Homo sapiens: one gene and its partners. The protein of the gene in region 1 interacts with the protein of each later gene in a pairwise test. Each region holds a gene or a part of one and is shown on either strand. Other genes may lie near its edges. The genes, in order: VMAC, TFAP4, ZNF80 and ZNF326.

Region 1 (6,834 bases):
ACTTACAATCATGATGGAAGGAACCTCTTTATAGGGCAGCAGGAGAGACAGTGAGAGACCAGCAAAGGGGGAATCCCTTATAAAACCATCAGATCTCCCTTATTGATTGAGACGGAATCTAGCTCTGTCATCCAGGCTGGAGTGCAGTGGTGTGATCTCGGCTCACTGCAACCTCCGCCTCCCGAGTTCAAGCAATTCTGCCTCCTCAGCCTCCCCAGTAGCTGGGACTGCAGGCGTGTGCCACCATGCCCAGCTAATTTTTTTTTTTTTTTTTTTTTTTTTTAGTAGAGACAGGGTTTCACCATGTTGGCCAGGCTGGTCTCAAATTCTTGACCTCAGGTGATCTGACCGCTTCGGCCTCCCAAAGTGCTGAGAGTATAGGCGTGAGCCATTGCGCCCAGCCATCAGATCTCATGAGAACTCACTCACTATCATGAGAATAGCATGAAGGGGAAACCATCCCCCATGATTCATTTACCTCCCACCAGTTCCTTCCACACCACGTGGGCATTATGGGATTACAATTCAAGCTGACATTTGGGTGGAAACACAAAGTCTAACCATAGCAGAAGGGTATTTAGAGATGGAGCTTTTTGGAGGTGATTAGGGTTAGATGAGGTTGTCAGGGTGGGGGTCTCTATGATGGGATTAGTGTGCTTATATGAAGAGATACAAAAGAACTCCCTGGCTCTCTCTGCCCTGTGAGGACACAGAGAGAAGCCAGAAATCTGCAAGCCCGGAAGAGGGCCCTCCCATAACCTGACCATGCTGGCACCCTGCTCTCGGACGTCCAGCCTCCAGAACGCTGAGAAACAAACCTCTTGTTTAAGCCACTTAATTTATGGCATTTTGTTTTTTTGTTTGTTTGAGACAGAGTCTCTCTCTGTTGCCCAGGCTGGAGTGCAGTGGCACAATTTCGGCTCACTGCAACTTCCGCCTCCTGGGTTCAAGCGATTCTCGTGCCTCAACCTCCCGAGTAGCTGGGACTACAGGCGTGTGCCACCACACCCAGCTAATTTTTTTGTATTTTTAGTAGAGACAGGGTTTCGCCATGTTGGCCAGGCTGGTCTCGAACTCCTGACCTCAGGTGATCTGCCTGCCTCAGCCTTCCAAAGTGCTGGGATTACAGGCGTGAGCCACCACCCAGCCAGTTTATGGCATTTTCTTATGAGAACCCTCATTTCGTCCCCTCACTCTTCCTGCAGTTCGTTCCTTTCCATTATCTTTTCCCACCTATTCTTAGTAGGCTCTTCCTCTGGGAAGCCTTCACTCTGAGATCCCTCAGAGCCCCATATGCCCCTCCATCATGGCCGCTGGCCACCAATGATGTAACTGCCCAGTGACATGTCTGTCTCTCCACTGGACTGTGGATACCCAATGGGCAAGGCTAAGTCTTACTGATGTGCTCCAGTACTCAGCAGAATGCCTGACACACAGTAGGTGCTCAATGAAGACGAATGAATGAGTGCCTGGCACAGAGCAGGTGCTCGGTAAAAATGAATATGTCCAATTAGCTCTGAAGTAATAGTTCCCACCTGGGACCCAGCTCCTCCCACCTCCCTGGGTGCCTGTCTCATCTCTTTCATCCTCAGCTGTCAGAGGGACTCTTCAACAATGCTGATATGGGCCAGCATGGTGGCTCGTGCCTATAATCCCAGCACTTCGGGAGGCTGAGGCAGGAGGATCACTTGAGCCCAGGAGTTCAAGGCCAGCCTAGGCAACATAGTCTGACCCCATTTCTAAAGGATTTTTTTTTTTAAATCAGCCAGGTGTGCTGTCGCACGCCTGTAATCCCAGCTACTTGAGAGGCTGAGGAGGGAGGGTGAGACTGCAGTGAGTCGAGATCGCACCACTGCATTCCAGCCTGGGCAACAGAGCAAGACCCTCTCTCAAAAATAATAGATAGGCATGGTGGCTTAGCCTGTAATCCCAGCACTTTGGAAGGGTGAGGTGGGAGGACTGCTTGAGCCCAGGAGTTCAAGACCAAACTGGGCAACAGGGCAAAACTGTCTCTACAAAAAAATACAAAAAATAAGCCATGCGTGGTGGTGGACGCCTGTAGTCCCAGCTGCTTGGGAGACTGAGGTGGGAGAATCACCTGAGCTCCGGAGGTCGAGGTGCACTCCAGCCTGGGCATAGGAGTGAGGCCCTGCCTCAAAAATAATAAATTTAGGCCGGGTGCGGTGGCTCACCCCTGTAATCCCAGCACTTTTAGGAGGCTGAGGCGGGCGGATCACCTGAGGTCAGGAGTTAGAGACCAGCCTGCACAACGTGACGAAAACCAGTCTCTACTAGAAATACAAAAAATCGACCGGGCGTGGTGGCGGGCGCCTGTAATCCCAGCTACACGGGAGGCTGAGGCAGGAGAATCGCTTGAATCTGGGAGGTGGAGGTTGCAGTGAGCTGAGATCACGCCACTGCACTCCAGCCTAGGCGACAAGAGCGAAACTCCGTCTCAAAAAAATAATAATAAATTTTAAAAGTTAAAATGCTGATATGATCCCCTCCTCCCCTGCTGAAGAGCCTGCTATGGCTCCCAATGCCTACGCTGGGCGGTCTGTGGTCCCTGCGTCGCTCAGCACCTGTGGGAAAGTGGGCCTGTTTGAAGTTAGAGGTCCACACCTGTGTCACTTCTCGCAACTTTACATACTGATTACTAATTCGAGTTTTTTGGTGTTTTTATCAATCCGATACTCAGTCTAGCGTCTATACAAGTGCACACGGTTCCCCCTGCCCTTCCTCGCTTTCCAGCCTCGGCTCTGCCTCCGCCTACCGCCTCGGTGAAGTCCACCTGGCCGGCCCCGGGCCTCACCGGTCCTTGGCGCGACCCAGTTCGTCTAGGGCGGCGCGCAGCTGCTGGTCGTGGAGGGCCAGGCGCTCGGCTTGGGCGTGCACCGTGCGCTCCGCCGCGTCCAGCCGCGCCTCCAGCTCCGCTGCGCGCCGGTGCACGGCTGCCAGGTGTGCGTTTGCCTCCCGGATCTGCAGGGCCGGCGGCGCCGACATGGCCCAGGCTGCTGTACAGGCCCGGCCACGCCCCCAGGCGGCCCGGAACTGGCACAGGCCCCGCCCCCGGGAGGGCCCCGCCCCACTAGACCTCGGCGCGATTGGTCGCTGACCCCGCTAGACCCCACCCCAGAGGGCTGGGTCGTGCTCTCCTCAAACCCAAACACTACCACCGGTTCCGGGATCATGAAACTCCGCCCCTGAGTTTGGGCTCACTCTAGGATTGGACAAGATCTTGACAGCCACGCCCCCAGGCTGGCCACATCCTTTGGCGGCTCGCGCAACTCAGGCTCTGGAAACAAGATTGGTCACACCTTCGATACTGTCCCCTCCCTACTTGGAAGCTAACACCAGGATTGGCCCGGACTCCGCGAAACAGCAAGCCTGACCACGCCCCCCGAACCTGTGGCCTGTCAGGGGTAGATCCAGGCACGGCCTCGCCCCTTCATCCCTTATACAGTCTCAGATTGGTCAAGTCCCTTTTAGGTTATGCCTCCAATTCTAGCCACGCCCCCAAGTCAAGCGCCTGTGTACTTCATCCGGCCTAGGGCGTGGGACAGCCGCGGGGTGAACAGAGGCCACGTCCCGCTGAGCTTCTCGTATTGTCATTGGTCACTTTCCCGATAATCCCCGCCCCTGATCCTGTCCACGGCCCAAAACAGTAGCACGCTGCTCAGACTCCAGCTTGGTGACTGACCACAGGGCATGACCACTCGCTATGCAGATTCTGACACTGGGTGTGGCCACATCCCCGCCATGCCCCGCCCCCCAGTCATTGTTTCGTCATGTCTTGCTCCTATCAACTGGAGTCCCGCCCGTCCCAGTCTGAGCCCGGCCCCTCCCCTAGTAGATAGTCCCCGCCTCTAGTAGTCCCTAACCTAGGACTCCCTGAGCTGGGACTAGCGAAATCTGTCTGCACTGATCGCAGTCGTCCTCAGTTTCACCCTCTAGGAATCGGCCTGGGGATGCACGTGCTACTCTCTTCCTCCAGGCCGGTCCCCGGCGCGTGCGCGCGATCCATGTCCATGTCCGCGCCTATCAATAAAGTTGCTCACTTGTTGCCGGCCCGCTAGCCCGAAAGGTTGCGCGCGCAGCCCGAGAAGTCTCGCGATAGCCAGCCGCGGCTGCCCTTGCGCTTCCCGAGCTGGCGGGGTCCGTGGTGCGGGATCGAGATTGCGGGCTATGGCGCCGAAGGTTTTTCGTCAGTACTGGGATATCCCCGATGGCACCGATTGCCACCGCAAAGCCTACAGCACCACCAGTATTGCCAGCGTCGCTGGTGAGCGCCGGCCGGGCCCCGAGGGTGGAGGGCCGAGGCCGCAGGGAGGTCGTGGGGTTACTGGGGGCTGTTTGGATCGAACGGGTCTGGGAGTCTCGCGGGTACGCACGTGGTTGTCATCGGGGTGTCTTGGGCGGTCGTAGGGGGGGATCTTGTGTGAAATGGATGTTGGTAGGGGGTCCAGCAGGGTTGGGGAGCACTGGGAGGTCGTGACATGCGACAAGCTAGTCCCTGGGGTCATCTGAGGCGGTCCCAAGCTATCGCCAGGCTCGGGGAAATTGTGGAGTGAGACAGGGCTATTATCAGGTCCAAGGAGCTAAGGGACCACGAGACTTTCCAACGGGGTAGAGATTGTTAGAGGGGATCATGAGTCATGATTGGGGCATCTGAGGGCGGTACAGATGTTTGAGAAAGTTTTGGGGTGGGATGAGGTCTTTCTGTGGTCAGGGGGTGCTGGGTGGTTAGGGACACCTGAAGCTTTTACTGGGACCGCCAGAGAGGTCCTAGGTGAGGTGGATCAGGAGCTACTATGAGGGTAGCCTTGCAGGGGAATGAAGGGGACCCGCAAGCCCTGGCATTCTCCTTTTTTTTTTTTTTTTTTGAGACAGAGCCTTGCTCTGTCGCCCGGGCTGGACTGCAGTGGCGAGATCTCGGCTCACTGCAACCTTCACGTCCCTGGTTCGAGCAATTCCCTTGCCTCAGCCTCCCAAGTAGCTGGGATTACGGGCTCACGCCACCGCGCCTGGCTAATTATTTTGTATTTTTAGTAGAGACGGGGTTTCACCGTGTTGGCCAGACTGATCTGGAACTCCTGGTCTCAGGCCATCCGCCCATCTCGGGCTCCCAAAGTGCTGGGATTACAGGCGTGAGCCACCATGCCCGGCCGGCCCTGGCATTCTCTTATAGAGTAAATCTGAGTCTTGCCCCTTCCAGCCTGAGCGTTTCATGGGCATCATGCCCTTTAATTCTCAGCCACAGGTTGGGACTCATCAGGTCCCAGATGGAGCTGGAAGTCCTCTTCCCTCTGATGAAGAATCTTTACAAACTGGGCCAGGCGCGGTGGCTCACACCTGTAATCCGGCGCTCAGGAGGCCAAAGTGGGAGGATCGCTTGAGGCCAGGAGTTCCAGACCAGCCTGGGCAAAATAGCAAGATCCCCATCTCTGCAAAAAAGTAAAACAATTAGCTGGGCATGATGGTGCGTACCTGTAGTCCCAGCTACTCAGGAGGCTGAGACAAGAGGATCACTTGAAACCAGGAGTTCAAGGCTCTAGTGAGCTATGTTTGCACCACTGCACCCCAGCCTGGGCGACAGAGCGAGACCTTGTCTCAAAAAATAAAAATAATAGGCCGGGCATGGTGGCTCACACCTGTAATCCCAGCACTTTGGGAGGCGGATCATGAGGTCAGGAGATTGAGACCATCCTGGCTAACACGGTGAAACCCCGTCTCTACTAAAAATACAAAAAATCAGCCAGGCATGATGGCGGGTGCCTGTAGTCCCAGCTACTTGGGAGGCTGAGGCAGGAGAATGGCGTGAATCCAGGAGGCAGAGGTTGCAGTGAGCCGAGATTGTGCCACTGCACTCCAGCCTGGGCGACAGAGTGAGACGCTGTCTCAAAAAACAAAACAAAACAAAACCAGCCGGGCGCGGTGGCTCACGCCTGTAGTCCCAGCACTTTGGGAGGCCGAGGCAGGTGGATCACGAGGTCAGGAGATCGAGACCATCCTGGCTAACACGGTGAAAACCCGTCTCTACTAAAAATACAAAAAAAATTAGCCGGGCGTGGTGGTGGACACCTGTAGTCCCAGATACTCAGGAGGCTGAGGAAGGAGAATGGCGTGAACCTGGGAGGCGGAGCTTGCAGTGAGCCGAGATTGCGCCTCTGCACTCCAGCCTGGGCGACAGAGCAAGACTCCGTCTCAAAAAGAAAAAAAAAAAAAAACCCAAAGAAACAGTCTTTACAACCTGGTGTGTCTATAAGCTGAGGAATCAATTTGGTCAACTCTGTATTTCCAGCATATGTGAAACAGGGCCCGGCCAAAGTTGCGGCTCCATTGGGAGGCATTTGAATTAGGGCAGACCTAATCATCACTCCCATATTTTGCATATTTATTAATAGTAAGACAGACGTTATTGTGTCTCCATTTCTTACAGGTAGGGACTGAAGGTTGGAGAAGCATATTAACTGCTCCAGGGTCATTTGAAGCTGGGCTGCAAGTCCAGGTCGGCTGACCTGCTCCTAGGGGTCTCTGAAGCAAGGAATGTTCCCATCAGGTCCTTATCGAGGGTCTTCAAGAGAAAGGGCTGAAGGGGGCCACCCAGGGGATAGGATCTGAAACTGAGAAAGACGCGTATGTTGGTGTTCATGTGAGAGAGTGTGTGCATTCCTCATGTGTGAATACAAAATGAGTGGGCTGCGGTCTCAGGAGGCCTTTGGAGGAGACAGCTTGTCTCGGGGTGTGGTGCTGCTGAGTGAAGGGCCTCTGAGACCGGGGGTGCTCCCCAGAGGGTCTTAGAAGGGGAGGTCAGAACTTTTGACAGAGTTGCCA
Region 2 (6,365 bases), on another chromosome or scaffold:
CTGGCAGACCAATTCCAGGATCTTAGCACTTAAACACCACACCACGGGGGGGCAGGGGGGTGCTGGGGGGGTGCGGTTGGAGGGGGTGGGGTTCCCCTCCTAGGGGAGGAGAGGATGAGGCTCAGAGAAGTTACAGAAGCCCAGGAAGTGGCAAAACCTAGGGATTAACCAAAGCGTAGGGACCAAGCAGGGCCCCTGAACACCTGTGTCCTTTCCCAGGTTTTCGGAATCGGTGGCTTGGTTGTCCTTCTCTCCTTGCCGCCCACCAAAGAGCCACTCCCCAGCCTCAACACCATCTTCCATCTTTACAGAATACCCAGGGTCATCCCAGGGAAACTGAGGACCCCAATTTTTCATCGCAACACCACACACAAGCTGAGGGAGTAACTGTGCTCACACACACCCAGTCCGCTTTGGGGGGCCCAAGGAGCCCCCCTACTCTAGATGGGGTAGCCCTGCCCTGGTCTTCAGGCCAGCCCACACCCAGGAGACTCAGAATCTAAAAAACAAAGTACAAACTTTATTTTGTTTCTTTACAAAGGCACGGTGGCCTCTTGGTTTTTTTCTCCCCACTTTCTTAACAAAATATAATAGCTTCTCCTTGAACACGAAGACCTCAAAATTGTAAAAAAAAAAAAAAAAGAAAGAAAAAAAAGAAAAACAAAACAAAAACAGAAAGCAAACCAAAAAGAAATAAAAAACCAACAACAAACAAAACAAAAAGAGAGAGACAGACATTTTTGGGGTGGAAGATGAGACCTGGAGGCAGAGGTGGGGGCTGGGGGGTGGGAGAGTGGCGAATTCTAGTGCCGAGATGGGGAAGGGGGAGGGGGGCACAGCAGCAGCAAACCCCAACCAAGAAGCAACGGAGACCTCCGGGCCCCCAGAATGCCCCAGCCTAGTCTTACCCCCAACCATGTAAGTGCTTAAAGGAGAAAGAAGAAAACCCAAAAAGAGGAAGGAAAGGGGATTGAAGGCTGACAATCCCAGGCTGGCTCTGGGCAGGGAAGAAATAACCTGGGGTTTTGTTTAATTTTCCCTGTTCTTAAAAAACATATTTAAAGGAAAAAATGCTTTTTGGCAGAGAGAGGCCAGGCATCTCCGTGTCAGCTTCCTCCAGCCCCCGGGGCCGAGGCCCCGCCCTGGGGTGCCGATGCTCCCACACGCTCTGCGACACCCCAGCCCCGGGACCTCGGGTTGAGTGGCTTCGTTCAAAGGTCGATTTACAGTATTGAAAAAGAGGTCATAAAAGAGACCCAAATGACATCGTAATTTTGTAAAAATTTCTCACTCATTCGCCCATGTCTCTCCCTGTGGCTGCCCCGGCTCCCTCCAGCCCCCAGAAGGGAGAGGAGGGCTGGGGGGGTAGTCAGGGAAGCTCCCCGTCCCCCGACGGCTCCTCCCGGCTCTGGTCCATGGCGTCACTGTCTGAGGCCTCGGAGTCGGAGGCGGTGTCAGAGGTGGGGGCCTCCGGGCAGCTGCGGACAGGCTTCACGATGACAGCTCGCCGCTGCTCCTCCTCCAGCTCCTGCTTTTCCTGGGTGCCCTCGATGTGCTGGATTGCCTGGACAGGGACGAACCACTGAGAAGGCTCGGCCGGGGATACATGGCCAGCCAGGAGACAGTGGGGGCTCTCAGCCAGCCACTGTCACCCCCAAAACACATAGCCCAGAAAAAAGCCTGGCAAAGCAGCAGGGGAGGCCCGCTAGAGTACAGGAAAAACAAACTCCTTTTACTTTTTTTTTGGAGACAAGCTCTCGCTATATCACCCAGGCTAGAGTGCAGTGGCATGATCATAGCTTACTGCAGTCAGACTCCTGGGCTCCAGCGATCCTCCTACTGCTCCCTCCCTAGTAGCTGGAACCACAGGGGTGCGCCACCATCCCCAGCTAACTTCTGTATTTTTGGTAGAGACGAGGGGGTTCTTGCTATGTTGCCCAAGCTGATCTCGAACTCCTGACCTCAGGCAATCTTCCTGCCTCAACCTCCAAAAGTCCCGGGATTACAGGCATAAGCCACCACGCCTGACCCAGGAACAAACTTTCAAAACCCCTCTGTTAAGTTGAAAAATCCATTCTGGGAAGATGACAGTCCCAGTGCTGCTTAGAAATTATATTATATGTATCAGCCAGGCGCAGTGGCTCACGCCTGTAATCCCAACACTTTGGGAGGCCAAGACGGGAGGATCACCTGACGTCAGGAGTTCGAGACCAGCCCCTCAACAGAGGCCAGAAGCCTACTAAAAATACAAAATTTGCCAGGCGTGGTGGCACATGCCTATAATCCCAGCTACTTGGGAGGCTGAGGCAGGAGAATCACTTGAACCTGGGAGGAGGAGGTTGCGATGAGCTGAGATAGCACCATTGCACTCCAGCCTGGGCAATAAGAGCGAAACTCTATCTCAAAAAAAAAGAAAAAAAAAGAAATAATATGGACCTTTCATATGTTTTTGTTTGTTTGTTTTTTGAGAAAGAGTCTCACCGTGTCACCCAGGCTGGAGTTCAGTGGTGCAATCTCAGCTCACTGCAACTTCCACCTCCCATGTTCAAGCGATTCTCCTGCCTCAGCCTCCCGAATAGCTGGGATTACAGGCGTGCACCACCACGTCAGGCTAATTTTTGTATTTTTAATAGAGATGGGGTTTTCACCATGTTGGCCAGGCTGGTCTCGAACTCCTGACCTCAAGTGATCCACCCACTTTGGCCTCCCAAAGTGCTGGGATTGCAGGTGTGAGCCACCACACCCGGCCATATGTTTATGTATTTTAAAGCTTGCCTATTAACTTATTAAAGGCGTTTGTTATTAATTGTATTACACAATTTGCAAAGTTTATGAGCAATTAAAATTCGAGGAGATTGATGGATTTTTTTTCCTGTTTTGGCTTTTTTGGTTATTTATTTATTATTTACTGATTTCTGATCTTGGGCTCCTCAAGGGGCCCTGTTCAAGGGTGAATGCAACTGTAACTTCAGGCTTGACCCACAAAGCTTCCTCCTCTGTAGGAGGCCCAACTATCACCAGCCCTGCCACCTGTATCTCCATCCAGGTCCTAGGAGATGGAGCTGAGACAATGTTCCGGACCAACCCAAGAGCTGGATGCAGGAACTCTGTAACCAGGGGGCTCTGGGAGCAAAGGACCCTCTCCGGAAACCCCATATTGAGGGAAGGGACAGTCTTCCTGGCCAACTCCTCCTACTGGCGTGGTAGGCCCTGCCCCGATCTCTGGCCCTCACATTCTCCACTTGCAGATCCAGGGACGGGGCCCCCCAAGGCTTCCAGCCCTCCACCCCTTCCCACACAAGCACCATCTTCCTCCGCTTCTGCCCCTCTTTTCCAGTCTCCCCTAAAGAGCCTGTTCCCGGAGTATGACCCCCACAAGCTGCCCCTTTCTCAAGCTCAGGTACCTGCACGATGGTGTCCAGATTTTGCCGGGATGTGGAAACAGAGTTGATGACCGAGGAGGGGCCCATGGTGACGACATTGATGTGGTGGGAGGGAGGAGGAGGCGGTGCTGGCACGATCACCGTGGGGTGGTGGGTGGGGGCCGGAGGGGGCAGAAGCTGCAAGACAGAGGCCCTCAGCCTTTCTCTCAAGGCTTCTCTTGGCCCATCCACCTCCCTTTCATGCAGAGCTGGCCAATGTATAACTGCCTCTGCCCCTTTATATTAAGAAGCAGAGAGGACGTGGCCTAGGGAGAGGCTTCCGCCATTCAAGATCACCTGTCCCCTTCCCGGTCCCCAGAGCCCACTCCCGGGCGCCTCCTGCTCACCTGGGTCCGCAGCTGCTGCTGTTCCCGCTCCAGCTTCTCCTGGTGCAGCAGCCTCACCTGTTCCTGCTGCTGCTGCAGCTGCACCTGCTGCGCAATCACCTTGAGCTTTTCCGGGTACATGTGGGCCTCCAGCGAGCGCACCTGGAGGCAGGACAACCTGGGCTCAGGGCCAAGGCCGGGAGCACACCCTGCCCTGTCAGTCTCACAGCAGCTCATTCACTCCTGCTGAAAACCCTAGCACAGGGCGGGCCCCTCTCAACAGAGGCCAGAAGCCTTTCCAGAGCCCTTCAGCCCCCGGCTCCTCTCGCCTCCCACCTCGGCCTCCACTGGACCATGCTCCCTCCTGCCCGAGTCTTTGCCTATGCTATTCCCTCTGCCGGGAACACCTTTCTCTGTCCTTTGGTTAACTATGAGACTCAACTTCCCACTTCCATGGAGATGCCGTGGGGCGTCCCTTGAAAAACCCCTCCTGATGCCACAGCTCCAGCCTGGCCTTCAATATGGTTTTTTGTTTTTGTTTTTTGGTTTTTTTGAGCCATGGTCTCCTTCTGTCACTCAGGCTGCAGTGTAGTGGCACAATCATGGCTCACTGCAGCCTCCACCTCCTGGGCTCAAGCAATCCTCCCAGCTCAGCCTCCTGAGTAACCGGGACTACAGGCACACCCCACCACACCTGGCTAATTTTTGTATCTTTTTTGGTAGAGACAGAGTCTCACTATGCTTCCCAGGCTGATCTCAAACTCCTGGGCTCAAGCGATCCTCCCACCTCAGCCCCGCAAAGTGCTGGGATTATAGGTGTGAGCCACCATACCCAGCCCATCACGGTTACATTTTTTTTTTTTTGAGATGGAGTCTCGCTCTGTCTCCCAGACTGGAGTGCAGTGGCACGATCTCGGCTCACTGCAAGCTCTGCCTCCCAGGTTCACGCCATTCTCCTGCCTCAGCCTCCCAAACAGCGGGGACTACAGGCACCCACCACCACGCCCGGCTAATTTTTTTTTTTTTTGTATTTTTAGTAGAGACGGGGTTTCACCGTGTTAGCCAGGATGGTATCGATCTGCTGACCTCAGGTGATCCACCCGCCTCGGCCTCCCACAGCATGGTTACATTTTTGAGATCCTTTGGCTAATCTCCCCCACCCCAACGCAGACGGTGGCCCCCAAGGGCAGAGACGTGTCTGGCTTGCTCCCCACTCCTAGGCCTGGCACCGCAGTAGGTGCTCCTGTAAATAGGGCTCCACCGAGGGCCGCAGAGCAAGAGGCGCGACCCCAGGCTCCACGCCCTCTGCACCGCGCGCCGTGCCCAGCAGAGGGCGCTGCCTCACCTGCTCCTCCAGCATCATGCGCACCGAGCGCTCCTTGTCCAGCTGCTGCCGCAGCTCAATCATCTCCCGCCGCAGGTCCTCCGCCTTCTCGTCCTCCCAGATGTCCGGGGAGCCTATGCCTTCGTCCTTGTCCTCTGCCCGCCGTCGCTTGGGGGACGAGCCGCTCAGCTCCTGGGGACCCCAAGGAGTCGGTCAGTGTGCCTGACACCTCGGTACCACCACGGAGATTGGGGTTCCATCGCAGCCCCCCAAAGCTGCCCAACACAGGTGAATCTTCATTAGGGAGCCCCTTCTGCAAGTCCAACAAACCAGCCAAATGCCAGGAGAATGGGCTGCTTTACATAACAGTCACCTGGCTCCTTCCAGAGCCCACTCCACCGCACTTGACCGATGGGGAAACTGAGGCCGGGGCAGGAAAAAAAGTGCCTGGAAGTACTTGTCAGTGGGCAAGAAGGGGCCTGCAGCCACACCTGAGTCCCAGGCCCATGGCTGGGTCCAAGGCATGCCCATGCCAGGGAGAGGGAGCCATGAAGGACAGGGCGCACCTGGATGAAGCGCTTGAGCTGTGTGTTCTGCTGCAAGAGCCTGGTCTTCTCCTGCTCCAGGGAGAAGATGTACTCGGCTGTCTGCTGGAGAATGGCTGCCTGAGGGCGTGGAAAAGCCGAGAGTCAGGCTGGCAGTGTTTACCAGAGCTCACTTTCCTCTCCCAGCGGGAACCTGCCGGCTCCTCCAGGAAGCCCTCCCTGCTCTCACCCACCTTGCTGAGCTTCTCTCCGTCTGTGTGGGGGATGAGGGTCTTGAGGGACTGGAATCCCGCGTTGATGCTCTGCATGCGTCTCCGCTCGTTGCTGTTGGCGATCTCCCGCCGAATCCGCCGCTCCTGGTCCCGCTGAGTCTCGGGGGTTAGTGGAATGTTGGCAAGGCTGCCAGAGAGGACAGGGACAGGCTCGGCCAAGGCGCCCTCTTCATCATTCATCTCCAGAGGGCCCCAGTGGAAACTGCATCCCTCCCCTGCTGCAAAAGATGCCAGGCCACCCCCAGAGAGTGATGGAGGGGTGCTCTCTGGGACACCGGGGCGGACTGAATCAGCTGGCTGCGGGTAAGATAGTCCGCTCAGAACCCACCCCGGGCCAGGCACAGTAATCCCAGTTCTTTGGGAGGTCAAGGCCAAGGATCATTGAGCCTAAGAGTTTGAGATCAGCCTAGGCAACGTAGTGAGACCCTGTCTCTACAAAAAAATAAAATTAGCCAGGTGTGGTGGTGCATGCCTGT
Region 3 (7,433 bases), on another chromosome or scaffold:
AATAAGACCAGGACTTAAAAAAAAACACCCTGTAAAATGTACGCTTTTTAAGAAATAATAGAAGTCACTTTTATTCTAACATGCTATCTTTATTGAAATATTTTAAACATTTATTGCAAAAACAATAAATGCTTTTTATTTTTCAAACATAAACAATACTTAAGTATAAAAGTAAAAACTGAACATTGCATATAACCCTGGTCCATCCCATTTCCTGCAGAAAACCACTATTAACAGTTTTATGCTTATACTTCTAGATGTAGTTTTATTTCCTGAAACTTTCTCTTTTACTAAATACTGTATCTTAGAGATGTTTTGATATCAGTACATACAGAGATACCTTATTGTTTCACAGTATTTCATAGAACAGATGTACCATAACTTACTTCCAACTGATAAACATTTAGATTGTTCTCAACGTTTCACACATAAAAACAAAACTGCAGCGATTATTCTTTGCACGCACATCTCTGCATAATATAAAAACATTTCTGAGGATTTCTAGAATTGAATTAACATGTCAAAGGATCTACATGTTTTATATTTTAATACATTGTATTCATCAAAACATTTTTTTCTGAGTTTCTCATTAGATTAGATAAGCTGTGTTTTGTTTTGTTTGTCTTAGCTCTTGTTTAACTTCTAGAAAACTAGTGACATGCTCTTGGAGAAGCCCCTCTTACAGAAGGCCAAAGAAGCTGAGAAAGCACAGAGGAAATAATCAAGGCTCACCTGGGAAAGCAACACAGCTTCACCATCATTCTCTCGTCCCTGAGAAAATAAATCAAAACAAACAAGTATATTGAGCACTGGGTGTTCAAAACCACATGAAGAATTGTTTTTTGTTAAATTAAAGCCTTAAGTAGTCTTAAATGATGTAGCAAAATATGCCCATTCAATGTGGTTACTTACCTCCTCAGATATGAAAGGATTTTATATGGCAGTATTTTTATATTCTACGTTCTTACAAGTTTCACATATTCCATTACTTAAGCGTTCATATTTCTCACAAAGACTTACATTCCTCAGGAGTACAATGTTTTAGAACAAAGAATGCATTCAATAAATCTTTACAGAGTTAATCTTTACAGAGGACAATTCTCCTGTAGACAGGAGTGAATACATATAAAGGACAAATAACGAGGCAAGGCCTTTGTACCTTTCAGCCATCTGCAAAATGAAGAACTGAATTCAAATTTTGATAGGCATGGCTTTCAGAGAAGTCTGACAGAAGCTATGCATGAATTTCTTTTTTTCTCTTTTACAGTTCCCTTCTTACTTAAAAAAAAAAAATCCTGAAGTGGCTTAGTGATATAAACTATGGAGAGAGGTGTGGGTGGTTCTTTTAAGTGCACAATAACCAACAGGTCTCCCTCCTGGAAAAATTCTCAGATGCTGAGGAAGATATTTCCTGTGGCCAAAAGATTTTCTTCACTAGTTTTTGTCAAAATGTCTTTTCGCAGTTTAAGTTCTCTGACGTTGACTGATGTGGGCCCACTTGCAAAAGGCCTTCCCACATATCTCATAGAGTTTATCTCTGGAAGGAATTCTTCAATGCCAAGTGAGGATGAGCTGCAGGTCACAGCTTTCCTACTGCCACTGAATTCAGAGTGCTTCTCCTCAGTGTGGCTCTCTATGTATCAAAGAAAAAAAAAAAAAGAAAACCCACAAATTCCCACATCATTTGCACTCAAAGGTTTTTTCCTCCAGAGTGGATCTTACTCTGTTGGGCAAAAGCAGAGTGGTAGCCAAAGTCCTTTCTATGTTCAAGGCACTCATAAGGTTTCTCTCCAGTGTGACTCCTTGTATGTCGAGTGAGGGAATAGCTGTAGTAAAAACCTTTCCCACATTCTTTGCACTCGTAGGGCTTTCCTGCAGTGTGGGTCATACTATGTCGGAAGAAAACAGAGCGGTAGGTGAAGGTCTTCCCGCACTCACTGCACTTGCAGGGCTTCTCTCCAGTGTGAATCTTCATGTGCCGGGTTAAGGAAGAGTTGTAGTAAAAGGTTTTTCCACATTCTTTGCACCCAAAGAGTTTTTCTCCAGTGTGGGTCACACGATGCTGGATGAAGACAGAGTGATAGCTGAAGGTCTTTCCACACTCGCTGCACTCATAGGGCTTCTCTCCAGTGTGAATCTGGCGGTAGCACAGGAGGTGCGACCTGCGGTTGAAGACCTTCCCGCACTCCACGCACTTACAGGGCTTCTCCCCTGTGTGAATCCTCATGGGTCGAACGAAGTCGACCTTTTCAGGAAAGGCTTTTCCACACTCCTGGCATTCATAAGGCTTCACCCCAGTGTGAATCTGCTGATGTCGAACAAGGAGGCTGTTTTTGTTAAACACGCTCCCACATTCCTTGCATTTGTAGGTCTTCCCCTCACGAACCAAAGTGTCTTTACTTGGTCCCTGGGAGTCACATTCATGGAGATTGTCTCCTGTGGAGACCTGCTCCTGTAAAACCTGTGAGTGCAGACCATCACCTGTCCCCAACCCATCGCGTTTAGGGCTCATCTTCCTCCAGAAGGTCTCCGTGTGGGAGACTGCAGCCAAACTCAAGTGCCCTTCTGCATTTCCAACTGTGTCCGGAATTGGTGGGTTCTTGGTCTCACTGACTTCAAGAATGAAGCCGCGGACCCTTGTGGTGAGTGTTACAGCTCTTAAGGTGGCGCGTCTAGAGTTTGTTCCTTCTGATGTTCGGATGTGTTCGGAGTTTCTTCCTTCTGGCGGGTTCGTGGTCTCGCTGGCTCAGGAGTGAAGCTGCAGACCTTCGTGGTGAGTGTTACAGCTCTTAAGGCTTAAGGCGGCGCGTCTGGAGTTGTTCGTTCCTCCCGGTGGGCTCGTGGTCTCGCTGGCTTCAGGAGTGAAGCTGCAGACGTTTGCGGTGAGTGTTACAGCTGGTAAAAGCAGTGTGGACCCAAAGAGTGAGAAGTAGCAAGATTTATTGCAAAGAGCGAAAGAACAAAGCTTCCACAGTGTGGAAAGGGACCCCAGCGGGTTGCCACTGCTGGCTCCGGCAGCCTGCTTTCATTCTCTTATCTGGCCCCACCCACATCCTGCTGATTGGTAGAGGCCTGGTCTGTTTTGACAGGGCGCTGATTGGTGTGTTTACAATTCCTGAGCTAGACACAAAGGTTCTCCACGTCCCCACTAGATTAGCTAGACACAGAGTGTGGACATAAAGGTTCTCTAAGTCCCCACCAGAGTAGCTAGATACAGAGTGTCCATTGGTGCATTCACAAACCCTGAGCTAGACACAGGGTGCTGATTGGTGTGTTTACAAACCTTGAGCTAGATACAGAGTGCCGATTGGTGTATTTACAATCCCTGAGCTAGACATAAAGGTTCTCCAAGGCCCCACCAGAGTAGCTAGATACAGAGTGTAGATTGGTGCATTCACAAACCCTGAGCTAGACACAGGGTGCTGATTGGTGTGTTTACAAACCTTGAGCTAGATACAGAGTGCTGATCAGTGTATTTACAATCCCTGAGCTAGACATAAAGGTTCTCCAAGGCCCCACCAGAGTAGCTAGGTACAGAGTGTCCATTGGTGCATTCACAAACCCTGAGCTAGACACAGGGTGCTGATTGGTGTATTTACAATCCCTGAGCTACACATAAAGGTTCTCCATGTCCCCACCAGACTCAGAAGCCCAGCTGGCTTCACCCAGTGGATCCCGCACCGGGGCTGCAGGTGGAGCTGCCTGCCAGTCCTGCGCCATGCACCCGCACTCCTCAGCCCTTGGGTGGTCGATGGGACTGGGTGCCGTGGAGCAGGGGGCGGCGCTCATCGGGGAGGATCGGGCCGTACAGGAGCCCACGGAGGGGGTGGGAGGCTCAGGCATGGCGGGCTGCAGGTCCCGAGCCCTGCCCCACGGGAAGGCAGCTAAGGCCCAGCAAGAAATCGAGTGCAGCGCCGGTGGGCTGGCACTGCTGGGGGACCCAGTACACCCTCCGCAGCCGCTGGCCCGGGTGCTAAGCCCCTCATTGCCTGGGGCCGGCAGGGCCGGCCGGCTGCTCCGAGTGTGGGGCCCGCCAAGCCCATGCCCACTCTGAACTCCAACTGGCCCGCAAGTGCCGCGTGCAGCCCGGGTTCCCGCTCTTTCCTCTCCCTCCACACCTCCCTGCAAGCTGAGGGAGCCGGCTCCGGCCTTGGCCAGCCCAGAAAGGGGCTCCCACAGTGCAGCAGTGGGCTGAAGGGCTCCTCAAGTGCCGCCAAAGTGGGAGCCCAGGCAGAGGAGGCGCCGAGAGCGAGCGAGGGCTGTGAGGACTGCCAGCACGCTGTCACCTCTCACAACCACTCTTTCCCTCACTCACCTCAACCTGGAGGAACTTCTGGCTCCCTGAGTTAGTCTTTCCAGGAGCAAGGCTCCCTAGGACAAGGCTGGCTGGCTTTGGCTTTTACTTTGTCACCTGGACAGCAGCTTTAGCAAAGGTATTTTCTGCTCTTTTATCACTGCTTCAGCTAGTAGGTCAACTGTGGTTTGCATGCCCCCGTGACGAGTGGTCTGCAGGTCTCTGGTGTCACCTCCCAGTACGGGGTCCTCTGGGGCTGGTCCAGCTGCTCCCACTTCTTCCAGGTTAAGATCATGGACATGTCCTGCACCACTGCCTCGGATGTCGCTGCAATGGAGCAAGACAAAAGCCACGCGGCACCTGCATCCGCATATGCAGAGAGTACTTCCGACTACAGATACCAGAGAGCCGCGTGCAGCCTCCGCCAGCCGAACTACAAGTCTCAGAGGCCTCAGTTTCATTTTTTAATTCCTGGGAATTTAACCCTCAATTATTCTAAATGGAAGTTGATGCCGGTTGGGTCGGGGCGACCTGCAAGCTTGCGCACAAACGTGCACATAAGAACATACATGTAAGGAACCTGTTCATGCAGGGCGTGGAGAGAGTGTGTCCCACTTATCACTTAATTTTACCCGCTGACCCCACGATAAACTGTACCAAGGGGCTGGCCATTAAAGTCAATCCAGTCAAAATACTCAGTGTGGAGAAGACATGGAAATTCAGGATCTCTTTTATGTTGTGGATGGTTCTGTAATTAGTAAAATCACTTTGGAAAAGTTTGGTCCTATGTCCTAAAGGTCTTTCCAAAACAAAGCTTTCCCACATGTACCAGGAAATGTGTTCCAGAATGCTCACATTAGCAAACACCTGGAGAGAGTTCAGGAAAGAGGATGGCCGCTACACAGAATACAACATTGTTCAGCCGCCTGGGACTGCTGCCGTCCAGTACTTCTCCCAGGGGAGCCAGGGAAGCATCACAGTTTATGTTGCAGAATCCTCAAAAATGAAGGGTGTAACAGCACCAAATCGCTCTGGAGCTGGTGAGGAGTGGAAGCCATCATATGGAGATTGGTGGCAGTGGCTTGAGCTTTGAGCAAGACCCTGATCCACTGCCCTCCCCTTCCCAAAATGCAGCTGGTTTTTAAAGTGAAGAGAGGATCTTGGAACCAGGGAATGAGAAGCAAATTGGACAGTTCTGGCGAATACTGAAGAAGAGAACTGATGGTCACTGACATATGGACCCCTCACTCCACCCCTCTTTGCTCGTCATAGCAGCTGTTTGGAATGTTCCTCTCTCAGAATCTAATCAGCTCAAGAGGAGAGACCCAAAGACGCTGATATTGCAGTTCTCCCAGTGAGGTGGCCTGGCACGTTGACTTTTAGCAAATACTTATACTTTGTTTTATTTTTCTTTCTTCTGTGCTGGCCAGAACCTCTATCTACTATATTGAAAAGAAGAGGTGCTATCAAATGCCATTTTCATTTTGCTGATTAAAAAAAATTCTTCTAATGTTTCATAATTAAGAATGTGTGTAGTGTGAAATTTTACTGGTATCACCAGCTTGATTAGTTTTATAAGATATAAATATTGGGGTCAGAGAAATAAAAGAGCAGGCAGACATGCTAACTGAAAAATCCAACAGAGTTTTCTCACCCAAAGTATTTGGAACAAATCAGTACAGTCACAATACAAGGCAGAAGGCTCAGCTGTGTTATCCAGACAGCAAGAGTCTCCCCAAGATGGGAGGCAATAGTGGATGGCAATGACTTAGGCTGCTATGCATGAGCTCTTCTGAATCGGTTCTGAACTGTCTTGCCAGGGACAGTGCCTTCATCATTCTTAGGACGCTGCACATTTGATGGTGAAGTTCTCTCCAGCAGTGGTTCTCAAAGTGTCATTCCTGGTCTCTGTTGTGCTTATTTTTAAGAGTTAAAGAGCTGGGCGCGGTGGCTCAGGCCTGTAATTCTAGCACTTTGGGAGGCCAAGGCAGGCGGTTCACAAGGTCAGGAGTTTGAGACCAGCCTGGCCAACATGGCGAAACCCAATCTCTCCTAAAAATACAAAAATTAGCTGGGCGTGGTGGTACGTGCCTGTAATCCCAGCTATTCAAGAGGGTGAGGCAGGAGAATTACTTGAATCTGGGAGTCGGAGGTTGCAGTGAGCTAAGATGGTGCCACTGCACTCCAGCCTGGGCAACAGAGCAAGACTCTGTCTTGAGAAAAAAAAAAGAGTTAAAGAAAGCTGATCACTAAATACATGCAATCTAACCATGATCATGTGGGCGGTTACAAAATGCATTAGTTTTATTTCTTGGAAATGTCTATTTTTTTCTTTAATGAATTTGTCTTTCAGCATATGGTTTTAATGATATAAAACAGCTCCTAAAAATGATAAAAAAAATTTCTCTCATTTGAGCTGTCAGTAGCAAAGCTTGTAAGTAATGTGACTATCTCAGCAAAAAGTTGGTACGAATTAGATCATATCAGTAACAATGCCCAGAGTCTGCTCTCTGGAAATTCTCAGGGGGTTTCTCACAAGGAATCCTGTGGATGACTTAACCAATGTGACTATAGACTCTCACCTGCAATTTTTGGTCCTTGGACACACCCATGGACTTCCCCTTATCACTGTAATCCAGGCATGAACATAAACTCTCTAGTGTTAGACCAAACTGTGGCTTTAACAAGACTTTTCTTAGGGCTGGGGATCACAGAGGGACGTTCATATAAAGAATAACAACTGGCTACTAGATAGGGCTGTTCTTGGAGTCCTCAGTTCCCAGTCCATTCAGCTGGCCTCCATACAGCTCCCTTCTGCTCAGAGCCCATTCTCTTCACCACCATTTTAGGAAGAGGCCAGTTTTTCTCTACCACCCAGAAACATCTCACACATGCCTCAATTCCACAGTGTCTAGGCCGAAGTCAAAGTCCAGACAGAGGAACTAACCCCAATCCAGGCCTGTATTCCCCATTTTCTGTTTCCATATTTTACAAAGATGCCTAATCAGTATATTATCTTCTTCCTTCAGTAGAGAATCCACCTTCATTCACACAATTGTGGCCTTACCCTATGACTCCAATAGTATAGCCCCTTAGAACATAGTGTCACATTTCCAGAAGATATACATACTTACCACTT
Region 4 (7,027 bases), on another chromosome or scaffold:
GACTCCAGAGATGGAATCAAAAGAGAAGGAAAGACTAAAAAACAGAAGATTTCATAACTTGAATTTTGGGAGAAGGAATAACAGAAACAGAGAACAGAGAGAAGTATCTTTCATCTAGAGGAAAAGGTAACTTTTCCTCTCAAACTGAAGTGAAGAAAGTAATGGCAGGTAATGATAAATTTGTAAGCATTAGAACAGGAAGACAAAGAAGTTCATTTCTGGTAACTCACTCAGAGCTACTGTATATATGACTGTACTATATCACTCTAGTGGCTATCATTTACATTTAAACAGGTTATGATATATAAAAATACATGTAGAATTTTAAAATAATTTGTTTTAAATACTTACCTTCCATAACATCTTTTTCAATTATTTTAACTACTTCTGTTTGATTATTTGTCTGTTGCTTACGAATAGATGTTTTCTTGAATTTATTCACCATACACTCCTAGAAAACAAAATAGAAAGAATCTAAATAGCTTTCAATGAGCACTCAAGTATAATGCTTAGCACTATGTTCATTCTATGGAAGATACAGTATCTGCTACATAAGAATTAACATCTTTTCTCAAGGAGTTTATAATTTAATTGAAAAGATAATCATAAAATATTAGGAACCTACAAAAATTATTCATTTTTCAAAGTATATTTTAAGCATATAGAGAAAGGGATCAAAGGGAGCTAGAATATTTAAGAGGTCTTCCAGAGTAGGTGGGTATTTAAGTTATAAAGGACACACAGAAACCCATTAAGGAAATAAATTACAGAAGATTGTTAATTAAGGGTCACAGTTCTATGAGAATTACAGTGGTCTGAAAGGTCACTTTTTTTTTTTTTTTTTGAGATGGAGTCTCGCTCTGTCACCCAGGCTGGAGTCCAGTGGTGCGATCTCTGCTCACTGCAACCTCTGCCTCCCGGGTTTAAGCAATTCTCCTGCCTCAGCCTCCCAAGTAGCTGGGATTACAGGCACGCGCCACCACGCCTGGCTAATTTTTATATTTTTAGTAAAGACGGGGTTTCACCATGTTGCTCAGGCTGGTCTTGAACCCCTGACCTCGTGATCCACCCGCTTCAGCCTCCCAAAGTGCTGTGATTACAGGCGTGAGCCACTGCGCCCGGCCTGATCATTGTATTTTTAACTTTCTAATAATTCCACCTCTTCTGTCCAAATTAATTGTACGTACAATCAACAGTCCAGCTCAAGCCCCTTCTTTAAGCATTCCTTAACATTCCCAACTGTCTTTCCCTTTGCTAAACTCCTACATTATTTCTGAATTCCTGGCATTGTCACTTAACAGTCATTTAACTGCTCTGAGCATAATCTTTCATGATAAAAATGAATTGTTACAGGGCTCAACTGAAATAACGAATGAATGTAACCAGCACAACTCCAGTTAATGGATGATAGCTGACTCCACATCAATACAGTTGTTAAAGGACACCTCCCGCAGAAACTGTGAAAAATGTAATAATTTCTGAAATAACAAATACAAATTCTATTATAGAGGAATTCACAAGTAATTCTGAGTTAATTTTAAAACAACTCTTTCTTTAAATAGTAAATTAAAATTTTAGAAACATAAATGTGAGAGATGGGGAGAGTGAAAAATGAAATCATAAGAAATTCATATCAATAAAATGCTTCTCACTTCAAAAACAGCTACTCACATGCAAAAACTCCATAACTACTTTATCAAATTTAGTTTGTTTCTGTATATGATCTAATGTTTCCTGATGTGAAGAACTTTCCAGATGCAGTTCAATATCTTTTTCTTCAAATGTTCGAAATTTACAAAATGAACATGTAAATGCCATTCTGTAAGAGAAAAAAAAGTTTTCCTTTAAATATTACTTTATTCAACTATAAAGAGTTCATAAGAATATAACATTGAAACTAATTTTACCAACATAAATGATTTCCTTTCTTCCTCTTTATGACTGAATTAAACTTAGCTTAAATCCAAAAAAAACAGTATTTAAGTACATATTTGGACAGTACCCATATACCACTTTGCATTTCTAGCCCACCTTGGAGCTTCCGGGTAGGAAAAATTGAATCAGGGGATCTATAAGTTATCCACTTCAAGCCTGGACCAATTAAAAAGGCAAAACAAACCTCAAGAAGTATCAAGTTCCAAAGTTCTGCAACTTATTTTACATGTTGTTCCATCCTCAAGCTTCTAAACCAATGGTAGTATCAATAAAGCAAGGTGGCACACCACCAGACAATCATAATTCACTCCTGTGGAATTCTTGGGTGATAAAAGTCTTGCCTTCTAAAGACTACTTCACTTAGGGATAACTAATAGGCCTGGACTGGACAAATGCATACATCTGTAAGCTCAAGAGCCACTCCATAATGAACAGTCCCACCTAATTGCTTCTTTTTTTCTTTTTCTTTTTCTTTTTTTTTTTTGAGATGGAGCCTCGCTCTGCTGCCCAGGCTGGAGTGCAGTGGTGCGATCTCAGCTCACTGCAACCTCCACCTCCCCAGTTCAAGCAATTCTCCCACATCAGCCTCCCAAGTACCTGGGACTACAGGCATGCGCCACCACACCTGGCTAATTTTTATATTTTTAGTAGAGACAGGGTTTTTGCCACCTTGGCCAGGCTGGTCTTGAACTCCTGACCTCAGGTGATCTGCCTGCCTCGGCCTCCCAAAGTGCTGGGATTACAAGTGTGAGCCACCGTGACCAGAATAACTGTTTCTATTTTACATTATTTTCTTTTCCTTGAATTATGCCAGCAGTCACATAACTGGTTTCTGTCTCCAGTCTCCATTTTCCAATTAATTCTTTGCAATGCTATTAGATTTATTTTCCTGGTTGAGAGTATGAGCTCTGGAGCCAACTGCTGAGTTCATATCCTAATTCCATTTTGTGATCTTGGGCAAGTTACTTGACTTGGTTTTCTGGGCCTTGGTTTTCTTACATTGAGATGAGAACGCTCACAGAGGTGTCTGAGGATTTTTAAAAATTAATGCAGACAAAGCCCTTAGAACATTTCCTAAAACACAATAATTATTCAATTAATTATTGCTACTTCCTATAGGAGGTAAGAGCACATTACTGCTCAAAGGGCTTCATTAGCTCCATAAGCTCCAAAAACAAAGACAAAAATGTTTTCAGCTGCCATCCAGGAAATTTCCTAATCTCTTCTTTTTGGCTTTACTCACCAATACCTTTAACATTATCTGGCACAGCATTTCTTCATTAAATGTTTAAATTAGATTATACCTTTCACCCATTAGAGTCACTTCAATCTACACTGCTTTCAATTTTCTAAATAACAATAACACATTCCTGTTTGCTTTGATGGCAAGCCATGGCCTCTACCTGGGCTGCCTCTCACAACTCCTCCTGTAACCCTACCATTCCCAGATCAATTCAAATACTACTTCCATCATTGCAGCCTCCCCTGATTTCCATGCACCCTTATTTATTTATTTTTTGAGACAGAGTCTTGCTCTGTTGCCCAGGCTATGGAGTGCAGTGGCGCGATCTCAACTCACTGCAACCTCCACCTCCCAAGCTCAAGCTATCCTCCTACCTCAGCCTCCCAAGTGGCTGGGACCACAGGCACGTGCCACCACACCTGGCTAATTTTTGTATTTTTTGTAGAAATGAGGTTTCACCATGTTGCCCAAGCTGGTTTTGAACTCCTAGGCTCAAGCAATCCGCCTGCCTTGGCCTCCCAAGGTACTGGAATTACAGGCATGAGCTACCATGCTTGGTCTCCTATACCCTTATTTAGAAGTTATATCTCATGAGACTACATTGTACTCCTGGTATCCTTCACCATACACTATTATTTATGTACATCTCTCACACATCCATCTCTTTCTCCCTAGGTTCCCTTAAGGGTAGATATAAACCTTTCCATGTGCTTTATTATGTGGGAAGCATTCAAATATCCAAGGGAAGGAACCTATCACAAGAATAGTGATTTACTCAATCTCGAATCCTCATAACTCAAAGTAAAACTGCTCTGATAAATGAAAATAACTTAGACTACTTTAAATAAATTATATCCTAAAATGATAATTTATGAGTTAACATTCTTTTGGTTATATCATCAGATTTATATTTAGAGTTACAGAGAAAATAGCTAAATGAAAGTTCAATTCTTTCATTTTCTCTATATCACAATTTTATATATTATATTAACATGAACATAATCCATATCTAAAATTTTTCATGAGAAAAGTACTCATAGGGCAATTAAATTTAAAAAATTGCATCTTATAATGTAAAATGATTTTTACACTCCAAGACGCTGATAATTTAAAGTCATTTCTACACCAAAATATTAACTATGCCTGTTACTTCTACCAAAAGAAGGAATCACAAGAGATAATGAATGGGACAGAGAACTCACAAGGACTAAAAATAGCAGTAGTTCTTGAAACTAGAACTACTCTTCTTTTTATGGATTGTTTTGTTTTGTTTAGAGATGAGGTCTTGCCACGTTGCCCAGGCTGGCCTCAAAATTCTGGGCTCAAGGCTTTAAGAAAAATTTAGACATTTTTAAAAAACTGCTAAATTGCTAATAGTTATAATATACTGTCACCAACAAATTTTAAGCGTCCTTTGACCATTCCTTAATTAGCAAATCAAATTTCTCCTTAGTAATAAAATGGCATACTATTATTTAAATTTTTAGTTTAATGAAATTACTGTTAAGTTTAAACAATTTCCTTAAAATTATTACTAGCTGTTTTTTGTTTCCTCATCATATTAAACAGCTTAGTTTTCTTACTTTTTAAAATAATTTGGGTGATGTTTTAATCTAACTTGGACATTAATCATTTCTCATGTTTATATTTTCCAAGTCTGTTTGCACTCCTTTCAAATTTTAAGTTTTTATTTAGCCAAATCTGCTCATAATTTCCTTTGTAATTTATTCTATAACTTTTAAGCCTGGGAAAAAAATCTCCTTGCAGAACATTTTGTTTTTCTGTAATTTCATTTTTTTTTTACTACATTCATTCCAGGTGTCATATGAGGAGGCTCTAAACTGATTTTTGTTGTTATTTCATTGTTCAACCAATTCCCCTCTTTTTTTTTTTGAGACAGAGTCTCGCTCTGTTGCCCAGGCTGGAGTGCAGTGGCTCAATCTCATCTCACTGCAAGCTCCGACTCCCGGGTTCACGCCATCGTCCCGCCTCAGCCTCCCGAGTAGCTGGGACTACAGGCACCCACCACACCTGGCTAATTTTTTTTTGTATTTTTTTAGTAGAGACGGGGTTTCACCGTGTTAGCCAGGATGGTCTTGATCTCCTGACCTCGTGATCTGCCCGCCTCGGCCTCCCAAAGTGCTGGGATTACAGGCATGAGCCACTGTGCCTAGCCCAATTCCCCTCTTATTTCTAATATCCTCTTTATTAAATATTACATTCTTCCTTACAGTCTGTTCACAGGCTAATCTGGTATAATAATTAGCTTTGTGTATTACCACATATTTTTAACTATTATAGCTTTTTAATGATTGATTATCTATAAAAGCCAGTACCTACTCATTTACTCTTCTTCAGAATTTCCTTTGGGATCTGGATTGGAAAGAACTTACATATTTGTAATATTTAATTCCTGCCCATGAAAATCACTATGACTCCATACAGTCAAATCTCAATGACAAGTGTTTCTTTTTAAGAATACTGTTATTTCTGAATATTTGATATCTTTTGGATTGCCAATATGAATAGAATGCCTTTTTTCTTATGTTTTCTAAGTAGTGATTACATATAAATATCAAAAACCAAAAGCATTCCTCTGTATCTTTGAACAAGTCTTTTCATTTGAATCTTAAGAACTTTTTAATATTACAATTGATGTGTTGGCTTTTTCTAGGAAATCATTTTTTAATGAACCTAATTTTCTGACTCTAAGTACAAACCTGTATCCATCTCCGTATTTCTCACTGTTTTTTTCTCTTCTGCGCCTTTGTTTCTCTCGCCGAGCCTCAATTCGCCGCTTTTCTTCCTCTTCATTTTTAGGATCAGTTTTTGCTAGGATATTACACAAAAAAGTAAAAGCTAAAATTCATTTTTCCATTCTCTCTTTCCAATCATCAGTTCGTAAAGTACATACTTATGAGGTATACTTAGTGATTGTAATCTAAAATTGAACTCACCAAAAAAATCGGAGTTTGAGACTATCCAGTATTTCTGAAACTTCACTAAATGAACTTCATTCATTTGAATACCATCATCATGAATTCTGTCATATCTGCTTGTCATCTATGTGATTATTTGCTACATATTTTTCTTTAAATGTGCTCATTTGTCCTATCCTTATTCTAAGCAATAATATCCTTATCACCTAAAATCATCTTGGGCATCACATACTTTGGGAAAAACACTAAAGTAACCTGACCGAGCATGAAAATGGAAGTCCAGTAAACACTGCAGAGCCCTGGATGCAAGAACTCATGTTCATATTGTAGGAGCTCTCAGAAAGTTTCTTAAAATTTGTAACCTCCAAAATAAAAGCAAATTTGTTCTCTTTTTTAAAAAATATTCTCTATTGTGATAAAATACACAAAACATAAGATTTACTAGTTTAACCATTTTAAAATGTGCAATTCAATGGCATTAAGTACATTCACAAAGTTACGCAACCATCTCCACTATCTAGTTACAGAACTGTTCATCATCCCATAAAGCAGTCACTCCCCATTTCAACCCTACCCTAAGGCCCTGGTAACCACTAATCTGCTTTCTGATCTACGGATTTGCCTATTCTAAGTATTTCATATACCTAGAATCATCCTGTCTGTTGCCTTTTTGGTCTGACTTTTATTTAGCATGTTTTCACAGTTCACCCATGTTGTACCATGTATTAGTAAGTACTTCCTTTTTTATGGTTTAATAATATTCCATTGTATGAATAACCCACATTTTTTAAACCATTCTTCTGTTGATGTATATTTCAATTGTTTCTACCTTTTGGCAATTATGAATAATGCTACTATAAACATTCATATATAAATTTTTGTTTGGACCAGGCACAGTGGCTCATGCCTG

The links.
Region 2: the proteins of VMAC (region 1) and TFAP4 interact in binary tests that used the Homo sapiens proteins (3 or more experiments, as listed by UniProt).
Region 3: the proteins of VMAC (region 1) and ZNF80 interact in binary tests that used the Homo sapiens proteins (3 or more experiments, as listed by UniProt).
Region 4: the proteins of VMAC (region 1) and ZNF326 interact in binary tests that used the Homo sapiens proteins (3 or more experiments, as listed by UniProt).

What each region holds. Positions count from the first base shown.
Region 1 is NC_000019.10:5,901,060-5,907,893, reverse strand, and holds the start of VMAC (vimentin-type intermediate filament-associated coiled-coil protein), read right to left. Parts: upstream 3,023-6,834; 5' UTR 3,004-3,022; coding exon 2,813-3,003; intron 1-2,812. Other genes in the region: NDUFA11 (NADH dehydrogenase [ubiquinone] 1 alpha subcomplex subunit 11), read left to right, coding at 4,186-4,282.
Region 2 is NC_000016.10:4,256,686-4,263,050, forward strand, and holds the end of TFAP4 (transcription factor AP-4), read right to left. Parts: intron 6,017-6,365; coding exon 5,851-6,016; intron 5,738-5,850; coding exon 5,639-5,737; intron 5,265-5,638; coding exon 5,094-5,264; intron 3,911-5,093; coding exon 3,770-3,910; intron 3,561-3,769; coding exon 3,405-3,560; intron 1,565-3,404; coding exon 1,370-1,564; 3' UTR 501-1,369; downstream 1-500.
Region 3 is NC_000003.12:114,234,563-114,241,995, forward strand, and holds ZNF80 (zinc finger protein 80), read right to left. Parts: upstream 3,017-7,433; 5' UTR 2,513-3,016; coding exon 1,691-2,512; 3' UTR 69-1,690; downstream 1-68. UniProt on the Homo sapiens protein: May be involved in transcriptional regulation.
Region 4 is NC_000001.11:90,012,109-90,019,135, reverse strand, and holds part of ZNF326 (DBIRD complex subunit ZNF326), read right to left. Parts: intron 6,011-7,027; coding exon 5,899-6,010; intron 1,820-5,898; coding exon 1,672-1,819; intron 452-1,671; coding exon 352-451; intron 1-351. UniProt on the Homo sapiens protein: Core component of the DBIRD complex, a multiprotein complex that acts at the interface between core mRNP particles and RNA polymerase II (RNAPII) and integrates transcript elongation with the regulation of alternative splicing: the DBIRD complex affects local transcript elongation rates and alternative splicing of a large set of exons embedded in (A + T)-rich DNA regions.